Linked DNA regions of Homo sapiens. The protein of the gene in region 1 purifies or fractionates together with the protein of each later gene. This does not show direct contact. Each region holds a gene or a part of one and is shown on either strand. Other genes may lie near its edges. The genes, in order: NAMPT, OLA1 and PEPD.

Evidence for each region.
Region 2: the proteins of NAMPT (region 1) and OLA1 fractionate together in Homo sapiens (co-fractionation; one large-scale study listed by BioGRID). This does not show direct contact.
Region 3: the proteins of NAMPT (region 1) and PEPD fractionate together in Homo sapiens (co-fractionation; one large-scale study listed by BioGRID). This does not show direct contact.

What each region holds. Positions count from the first base shown.
Region 1 is NC_000007.14:106,250,870-106,254,117, forward strand, and holds part of NAMPT (nicotinamide phosphoribosyltransferase precursor), read right to left. Parts: intron 2,283-3,248; coding exon 2,148-2,282; intron 325-2,147; coding exon 214-324; 3' UTR 1-213.
Region 2 is NC_000002.12:174,242,021-174,245,675, forward strand, and holds part of OLA1 (obg-like ATPase 1), read right to left. Parts: intron 1-3,655. UniProt on the Homo sapiens protein: Hydrolyzes ATP, and can also hydrolyze GTP with lower efficiency. Has lower affinity for GTP.
Region 3 is NC_000019.10:33,386,341-33,389,666, forward strand, and holds the end of PEPD (xaa-Pro dipeptidase), read right to left. Parts: intron 1,742-3,326; coding exon 1,550-1,741; intron 1,142-1,549; coding exon 1,004-1,141; 3' UTR 610-1,003; downstream 1-609. UniProt on the Homo sapiens protein: Dipeptidase that catalyzes the hydrolysis of dipeptides with a prolyl (Xaa-Pro) or hydroxyprolyl residue in the C-terminal position.

The DNA.
Region 1 (3,248 bases):
AAAAGCTTACTTTAGCACTCATCTTTTACATGGTTAAATGCATTTCCTAATTTGAGATCACCTAAACACTGGAAAAGAAAAAAAATGAAAGGGCAGTATGTCCATAAACCAACAAATAATTTGGCTGTAATGTATCATAAAACACAAACCCCACACATCTGTACAATAAACATTATGTATTACATACACACAACACACACCCAGTCATAAAGCCTAATGATGTGCTGCTTCCAGTTCAATATTCAGCTGTGCATTTTTTCTTATTTCATCAAATGAATAGCTTTTTGTCACCTTGCCATTCTTGAAGACAGTATGGAGAAGATCCTGCATAAATGGAAATTTCATGATTATATTACATTATTAAGCAAAATACCTGAATCCTGGTTTGATGAATTAGACTAACCAACCAGTCAAATACAGAGATGCCAATGGTGTTCAAATTGTGAGATGATTTGATGCATAAAAAATGCTAGTGGAACAAGGTACTATCTAAAATGGCCAATCACTGAGTTGCCTGGTATGTAGAAATATTTAACTTCTATGAAAAGGAATGACCTTAATACTACATTCTTAAACCAGTTTTCTTAAAGGAAAACCAAGAAACCTAGCTGACCAATCTTTTTTTTCCTCAGGCTGAAGGAAGATGCCTGGGTGCCTAGGGAGAACTGTAATCATTGTGAGTGTGCAGCAAAAAAGCCTGGTAAACCCTGCCTTGTTCCTGGCCAACAAACTCAACAGTGATTAAACTTATCAAATGGAAGTTTAAGAAATTTGCTAGTGCTAAATTTGGGTCTAGAAAACCCACAAAAAGCCAAAAGCCAATCCCAAAACAGAAACAAAGAAAAACAAGTATTGCATTCTTGACTAACACACAGTGACTGGGTTAAAGATTCTGTTTATACTCCAAAAGTCAATGACAAAGGTAATCCACTTCATCCATACAAGAGTAGCAAAGACAGATTGAAGAAATTAAATTCCCTTTGGGTCTGGTAGAGCCACTCCTGTCTCACTAAGGAGTTACCTGCTTCTGGTTTCTCTCTGAAAAATCCACAGAAGTAATCTCAATTTTCCACCTAGTCTGAAGATTGAGGTGCATATGACATTATCTAATATTTCTGTCATTGTGTTGCTTCAAACCACAGTGCTTTAGCTGTAGCATTTTCTTTCACAAATTTAAATTTAAGGGAATACTAGTTCCTACTCTTAAATCAAATTGCCTAGATGATTATGAATTATTTTCTAGTTTATTCTACTATCATTCACATACTCTTAAATCAGTGTCTTTTAAAAATCACACTTAGATTTTTACTTTTAGTTTGAAGTGACTTTAGCTCATCTAGGATAAACTAAATCTGCCAAAATCTTAGTAGGTACAAGAGTTACACAAAGCTTACTCAAATAATTGCCTAACAGGCTATATAAAGGGATCTAATTCTAAAAGTTTGATTTACAAACATATTTTTTCATTAACGGTAACAAAGTTATTTCAATTCTGGCTCAAAACCTTAATAAATGTAAAAGTAACATGTTATAAGCAGTAATTGTGATGTAGTATAAAGAATCAAAATAGGAAGTAATAGTGCACTCATGTTTAGTGTACTTTTTTCTAATAATATGAATATTCATGAATAGTTCTGTCTAAAGTTTTTTTTGATCAAGTGGCTTAAAAACCAAAAATTTTTTAACTTGAGTTCACAAATATAAATGTACTTTTGTATGCTAAAGACCATTAGATCATATGAACTACTTTAGTGTACTGTAAATTTTTCTAGTTTGGTTGATTTGAATCAGAAAACTTGGTTAAATCAAGGTTTCACCATTTATTATGTAATCCAAATCAAGTCACCTTGTTTTCACATTTTATATTAAAGTAACATAGTTTGCTTTTGGATAAAGTGTATACAAACTTGCTGTCAATCACTATACTTACGTAATATTTCTCCCTATGTATACACAGGCCCCGTGTTTATGACGTAGACACTTGTTTTGTATCTTATTTTGGTAGGCCAGGTCAGCAATTGGACATTTTATAATAAAATATAATACTTTGTCTTCCACAAAAACAATAACATAAAAACCTCCTTTCTTATTAATTTGGTGAGCCAACCTACTATTGCTTAAAAAAACCAATCAGCATAGATACATACCTGACCATATTCCTCAAGGTCTCCTTTTCCTTCCTCCAGTGTAACAAAATTCCCTGCTGGCGTCCTATGTAAAGATAATCGGCCCTTTTTGGACCTTTTGTTGGGATCAGCAACTGGGTCCTTGAAGACGTTAATCTGAAATCCAAATTAAGAAAGTTAGACAAGTAGAAGACTAATCATCAGAAATGTCTAAACACTCCCTTACAAAAAAGCACATACATAATTTACATTTAAGTTTTAAGCACTTAATAGGTATAACTGAACCAATCCACATCTGGCTTTCAGAAACATAACACTTTAGCCTGTTTTGAAGGATAGTCGTTTGTAATAAAGAAAAAGTATGACATCTTGGATATCCTTTTTGCCACTGAAGAACACCTAATACTCCATTTGTAGGAAGTCTGTGAGCATTCTAACATGTGACCCTTAAGGTATCTCTTTATATTACAAACTGCCTTTAAACTGACAGTAAGCACAGCATGTACATGCTGTTGAAGAAAAGCCCAACTATACCAACTACGCCAAAACCACACACACAATCTTTGGAGAGGGAACAAGAGTATTACTAAGGTAAAGGCTTTCCTATTTCATAACGTATCCCTCTTTTGGTACTTTTTACTTTTGCCTTGTTATTGTCAGAAGCAAAAGTCTTAGAGAACCTGAAGACAGCAGAGTGTTTCTACATCAGAAAGGTAGGCAGCAAAGAAACAGAAACAAGTGGCAGTGGAACAAGCAGCAACAAATGAGTCAATCCCAGAACTTTCCAAAGAAAGATCAAAGAGTGAAGCAGGGAATCAACTCAGGTGTTCTTAATTCTTAGCATCCTCCTGCCTCTGTCCCTTGCTCTATAGAATCTCCAGCTCTCAAGACGTTACAAAGAAGCAAGGGGGGTTGTTGTTCACTTGCCTAGCTGTTCTATGGCTACTAGAACATGACTGTGGTATAACAATCCAAACCTCATATTCTACCTTCCTGTAACAGTTTGGTCAGTGATTATATACTTGCTTGTCTTTAATATATGATGGCTAGGTAAGCTGACATTCCTACTCAAATATTACTTTTTGATCTAAAGGTAAAAACGGCAGTGGGAAATGACTGACC
Region 2 (3,655 bases), on another chromosome or scaffold:
ACTAAATTCTGGACAAAGGGATGTTGGCAGAAGTATGGTATGGCAGTTTACAGGAAAAAGGCTGCTAGTCAAGTTTGGCCCCCTGACCCTTCGGATAACCAGCTGCCTGGAATTCACAACACCTTAGACCAGCAGCCGCCAACCTTTTTGGCACCAGGGACTGGACCGTGAATTGGCTGATGGAAGCCAATTTTTCCACGGACCAAGGGTGTGGGGGATGGTTTCAGGATGAAACTGCCCCATTTTAGATCATCAGGCATTAGTTCGATTCTCATAAGGAGCGTGCAACCTAGATCTCTTGCATGCGCAGTTCACAACAGGGCCTGCGCTCCTCTGAGAATCGAATGCTGCTGCTGACCTGACCGGAGGTGGAGCTAAGGTGGGAATGCTCACTCGCCTGCTGCTCGCCTCCTGCCATGCAGCCTGGTTCTTCACACGCCACAGATCGGTACCAGTCCCCAGCATGAGGTTCGGGAACCCTAGCTCTAGACCATGAGGATGAGGCCACATCCTAGGGATTGCCAAGCTGTGAAGTGAAAGGAGCATGGGTTCCTGAGGACTTCATAAAGCAGGTCCACTATACCAAGCTATGACTGCAAAATGTACATTTTTACATGAAGAAAAAAAACTGGTTATCTGGGGTTTTCTGATGCTCTTAATTGAACCTAATCCCATCTGATGCAGTGGATAGCAACAAGAAGAGCTATCCCTCACAGAAATAAAGAAGTTTGGAACACTGTATCAAAACGTACTTTCGCCCCCAATATTCTCTAAGCCTCACAACCACAATAATACACTGCTCCAACAGGAGCTCATTTATAAAGGGTCACTCAGGTAAGAAAAAGCAGTACAGAACTAGAAACCAAATCTCCATATTCTTTCTACTTCATTAAAAGAGGTCATTTAATTGCCCAGCACGGTGGCTCACACCTGTAATTCCAGCAGGCGTGAGCCACCACACGGGGCAAGGAGACAGGCTTTTTTGTGTTTTTGTTGTTTTTTTTTTCAGATGGAGTCTCGCTCTGTCACCCAGGCTAGAGTGCAGTGGCGCGATCTCAGCTCACTGATACCTCCGCCTCCCAGGTTGAAGCAATTCTCCTGCCTCAGCCTCCTGAGTAGCTGGGATTACAGGGGCGTGCCACCACACCTGGCTAATTTTTGTATTTTTAGTAGAGATGGGGTTTCACCACGCTGGTCAGGCTGTGAAACCAGCCTCAGGGCAGCATGGTGAAACTCCATCTACAAACAATACAAAAATTAACCAGGCACGGTGTTTTGTGTGCCTGCAGTTCCAGCTATTCAGGAGGCTGAGGAGTAGGGACTGCTTGAGCCCGGGAGATTTAGGCTGCAGTGAGCCATGATCATGCCACCGCACTCCAGCCTGGGCAAGAGAATAAAATCTTGTTCAAAAAACAAAAACATGTCTCCTTATCACTAAATCTACATCCAGCCGTCAAAGGGGAAATATGTATCCCATTAACAAATAATTACTAAATATCTACTATGTTCCTAACACCATCGTGTCCCGTTAACAAATAATTACTAAATATCTACTATGTTTCTAACACCAGTCTAGGCACTAGAAATATACCAATAAGCAAGAACGAGACAATCGGTACCTTCCTACCTTCACAGAATTTAAATTGCAATGGAGGGGAATGTCAAACCACTTATTAAATTAGATAATATATATAAAGTACTCAAAATAGCGATTGGCATATAGTAAATGTTCAATATCTGATTAGCTATAAATATTACCTCTAAGTTTCTGGGTCATCAGCCTTATGCAGACTAAAAAGTAAGCCTTCCTATTCACCCAGCTAAAAACCAAGAGATTCTCTAGATGGTTTTGTACTGAATGTCCTTACTTTTGATCAGCAGGCCATCCTTTAGAGAACCGTCTCCCTCCCACAATCTATATCTTGTAGATCTATACAGAAGCACACAAGTCCGGTCGGATTTCCTTACTCAGGAATTGGAATTACAGGAGAGACAGGAAATGAGAAACACCCAGAAATCCAGGGATTCACATGGCTGAGCTCCACATGGACCCATTTCTGCCAGCACCACTTGGCTCTTATCCCTCTTGAGGCCTGGCTGTTCAGATTGTAATTCACTTATTCCAATAAACCTCTTTTTCCTGCTGAAAACAGCCAGAATTGTGTTGCTTACAAAGAATCCTACCTGATACAGTTGTGTGAAGTAAGATCATTCTACAAAAAGTAGTGTTTACAACCAAATACAATTGCCGAAACTCATTAAACTGTACCTTTAAAATGAGTGAATTTTACTATTTGTGAAGTATACCTCAATGACACTGGGAGGGGAAAGCATTTTATTTAAAAGTGTAAACAGCACACACACTTATTCTGAATAATAAAATATTTTTAGGTTACTTCCACGTACATTAATTTCATTATGCTCTATGACTAAAAAGCTATGGTCGTCCCTCCATAGCTGCAGGGGATTGGTTCTAAGATTCCAGCAGATTGAGTCCCTTATATACAATGGTGTAGTATAATACCTAATGCAATGTAAATGATAGGTAAATAGTTGTTTACTATTTTTTTTACTGTTATATTCTCATTTTTTATTTAATTAAAAAAAAATTTTTTTTTTTTGAGACGGAGTCTCGCTCTGTCACCCAGGCTGGGGTGCAGTGGCGGGACCTTGGCTCACTGCAACCTCCACCCCCCGGGCTCAAGCTGTTTCTCCTGCCCCAGCCTCCCGAGTATCTGGAATTACAGGCTCCTGCCACCATGTCCGGCTAATTTTTGTTGTGTTTTTTTAAAGTAGAGATGGGGTTTCGCCATGTTGGCCAGGCTGGTTTCAAGCTCCTGACCTCAAGTGATCCACCCACCTCGGCCTCCCAAAGTGCTGAGATTACAGGCATGAATCACCATGCCCAGCCAATTTTTTAAAAAAATATTTTTGATTTGAGATTGGTTGAATCCAAGGATGTGAAACCACAGATACAGAGGGTTGCCTATATGTACAGAAAACACTTAATATGGCCCATTTTAATATAGTCCCATTTAAAATCAAGTTGTAGTAACTGCAACAATTCTAGAATGAGAAGTATGTCAATATCTCAAAACTTAACTTCCTTACTAGTGCAATAAAGCTCACAACATAAATAATGATCATAGCTTGCTTTCACGTTTATTGATAGCACCCTACAGTATTTTGATTAATTATTTGTTTTGCTTACATTTCAACTCTCTACTTAGTCTTACTCTGCAAGCAGACTATATCACAGCAGGAAACCCCTTCAAAATGAAAACCTCTTCAAGCTCCAGGAAAGACTGAAATCAGGACAGCCACACTTGCTCATGTTTTACATTACATGAATTTAAGACATGCCTCACTTGGTCACGCCATGCTCTGTTCATTGAGGAATCTCTATGACAGGAGCTCCTCGGAATACCTAAGAACATGATTGTCCTACTTGCCACCAATCTAAAAGGCCACCCTTGATCACTTTCACAAATCCACACTGAATCTGCTACCTATTAGTACACCCTAATCACTTTTGAGATGTTTTATATTTTAAGGTTAGTGAAAGGATAAATAATGAAAAAGGAACACTTGGACCCAGTGCAGTGGCTCACACCTGTAATCCCAGCACTTTGGGAAGCCAAGGCAGGCAGATCAC
Region 3 (3,326 bases), on another chromosome or scaffold:
AAATCTAGTTTGGAGGCAGTGACCGTATCAGAAAGACTTGTGTTAAATCAGTCCGCCCTTTAACTTGCGCAAAGGCATGGCGCGGGGTGACTTGGCCAGTCTGACCTGAGTGCCTAGGATCTTCCTGCAGCGTTGCTTGCCCCACCTCAAACCTCGGGCTGCGCTGGTACTGACAAGCTAAAACCACCTTGCCTAGGAGTACTTCTCACACTTGTCTGTCAGGAGCATCTGGCGGGCGCTTGTGAAATACACAATTCCTGGGCCATTGCCCCTAGACGTTGGGTCAGATGGTCTGTGGGGGTCCCAGGAATCTCTTACCAAATGCCCCAGTGGTTCTGATGCCTGTTAGGCTTGGGAAACCTTGCAGCAAGTGACAGGGTGACACCAGAGCCCCGAGTCCCAGGGGCTCAAAGCAGGCTCCTCGGGGAGGACTCTGCCCTTGTCCCGCCAGGCCAGTCTGAGGCAGAAGCAGCCGTTAGAGGGCCTGTGCTGCCAGCACCATCTTCCTGGAACTGACTTGATACTGACACCAGGTGAGCCATCTTTTCAGGGTGCACGGGGTCCCAAATGCTCATCTGCAAAGGAATAAAGGGGAAGCCACGCACAAAGGACCATTTTAGGAAACCTTTTATTGCAAATGCCATTCTGCATATTGATTTTTGACAGAAAGTATCAGAAATGCTTCTTTCCTGGGAAAAGGAATATAAATGACAGCAAGACACATTTTAGTTGCTACTAAAGAACAGCATTATTTTCAATCATTTTAAGTCGCTCATTTAATAAGCAAGGTATAAAACAGATTAAAGGTGGGAGCCTGCAAAAGGGTAATTAAAAAAGTGTTTCCTCCCCGGGAAACAGCACTGTTTGGTCTGATCAAATGCCGAAGCTGGGATCTGATTCTGGGTGCCGTCTCTCGCTACTGGAGTGCTGACCAGCAGGCTGCCCATCACGAAAAGAGGTTGCAAGGCCAGGCCCCCAGGTGCGCTGGGATTTCTGGCTGGCTCTACTTGGGGCCAGAGAAGGGGGTAAAGGCCTTGTCACAGCCTGCCATGCATGCTTCAATCTCTTCCACAGTGCGGGGCACGCAGGTCAGCAGCTCTATGCCGCTGTCAGTCACCACGACGTCCTCCTCGATGCGGACCTGGGTCAAGCCGACAGACACACATTATCATAGAGCAGCCTCATGTGCCAGGCTAGAGGGCCGGGCCCATTCCAGGCCCACCCCACCATGGGATGGGAGCAGCTGACACTCCCTGGGAGACGGGTGGCCTCCGGGCTCCTTCATGGAGCCATCTGCCCATGTCACCTGCTCACCCTGTCTTTGCCAGGTGGATGGGAGCCCCTGGAGCGGGCAGGGGTTTTGCAGGATCTCTGTCTGTTCCTACTGAGGGGTGAGGCTCCATCCTGTGACAGACCACACGAAGGGGCAGGCTAAGCCCACCTCAAGGGAAGATGTCACTAGGGCCCCTGTCTTGGGACTAAGGAGTCTGCAGCTGCAGTGGAGGTGGCAGATGTTCTGGGAGCAAGAATGGGGCCCGTGGGCACTCACCCCGCCAAAACCGCGAAAGCGCTGCAGGACCTCGCGGTTAAGGAAGGAGGCGCGGGCCGGGTCCGCCAGGGCCTCATCCAGGAGGTGGTCGATGAAGTAGATGCCCGGCTCCACGGTGAGCACCATGCCTGGCTGCAGGTGCCGTGCAGTGCGCAGGCTCCGCAGGCCGGGCTCGTCGATGCGCTCCACGCCCTGTGGGGAACAGAGGTGAGGGGCCTGATGAGCAGCTCCAGGGCTCACCGTGGCCTCATCAGGAGAGATGGGCATGTGAGGGCCGGTGCCAGTCTCGTGGGCTCTCTTGACCATTGGGGTCCTCAGCCTAGACTCGCCCCTGCTGTGCTGGGCCATGGGCACCCTGATAAGACCTTCCACCCTGCACATACCCCTGGATCTTGAGTGTCCCTGGCCACACTACCCTAGGGCTTGCTTGAGAAGCCCTGTGGCCACCCATGTGCACACACCCGGGGCAAGCTGCCCAGACAGGCCTGTGGGGCTGGCTGAGGGTTGGGCTGCCCTTAGCCAGGCCCCGCTGCTGGCCAGAGGAGTGGCAGATGCCAAACCACTGAAGCCAAAAAAGCTCTTAAGGCGGCTGTGAAGCCCCTTGGGGCCACAGCTTTCCTTCCAGGCAGCCCAAGTAGAAACTGGCCCCAGAAGTCGTGGTCCCAGCTCCCCTAGGCCGAGGCCCAGATTTTCCGTGTGACTGTCCAGGGAGGACAGGTGCCGTCATCAGGGTGGGTCTGCCAGCCTTAGTGCGCCAGTGCAAATGTGCCGTGTGCGCGTGGCTTGGCAGGTGTGGCTCCCAGAGGAGAGCTCGGGGCCTTACGGCAGGGCCCTGGGAAATAGCCCCCAGCCTTGGAGAACGCCTGAGGGACAGTGGTAGAGCCGCTCCCTGCAGGGGCCCCTGTCTGCGCCCCACACTGCCCCAGTGCACACCCAGCCTGGCCTTGTCCACTCACAGGCACAGCTGAGGGGGCCTCAGCTTGGCTGAGGGCAGCGGGTGCTCTGGGAATTACAGGAGAGCTCCTGCTCGCCTCAGGTCCCCGGGGCACCATCCGGCCGGCGGCCAGGGCCTCTGAGCCAGTGGGCACGAGTATGCTTTCTGGTCAGGGGATGAGCCTGCCCTGCCCGGCTGCACTCCCTCCCCAGGAAGCCCAGCTGCTGGAGCGGGAGCTGTCATTTCTGACTGTTTGGGGGCCAAGAACATCAGACTCCAATTAGCAGTTCACGTAAGGTAACCAGAAACAGGCTGGCTCGGCCTCCACGCTGGGCACGGCCAGAGAGGCTGTGACTGATTCCACGGAGGGCAGGGACAGCCACGCTGACCTGGAGAGAGCAGGCCAGGCGGGAGGCGATGAGGAGACACCACAGCCTGGCTGGTGTGGCCCCGGCCCCACAACACTTGCCTCTGGGCCGCTGACCGGGAGCTGAGGCCGGAGGGCAGGGATGCCCCGTGGCTGAGGAACCGTATGGAGTGACAGTCCCTCTGCGCAGGTGAGAGGTGCATGTGGACCGAGCTGGGGCCTGTCTCCTGCCCAGAAGCTGCTGGGGGTCCCAGGGTCTCTGCTCCAGGACCTTCCCGTCCCTGTCATCCGAAGCCTGTGCTGGGCTCCCCCACCCCACCGCCGCCCATCCCTCTCCTTCATGCTATTCCTGAAGTGTCCGTCCCTGTCTCCACCCACAGCAATCGAAGCCAGGGGCCTGGGGGAAGCAAGGGCCTGCCAACGTCAGGTTTCCTTCCTTCCAGTCACCCCTCCATCCCCATGGGCCCACCCCGGCT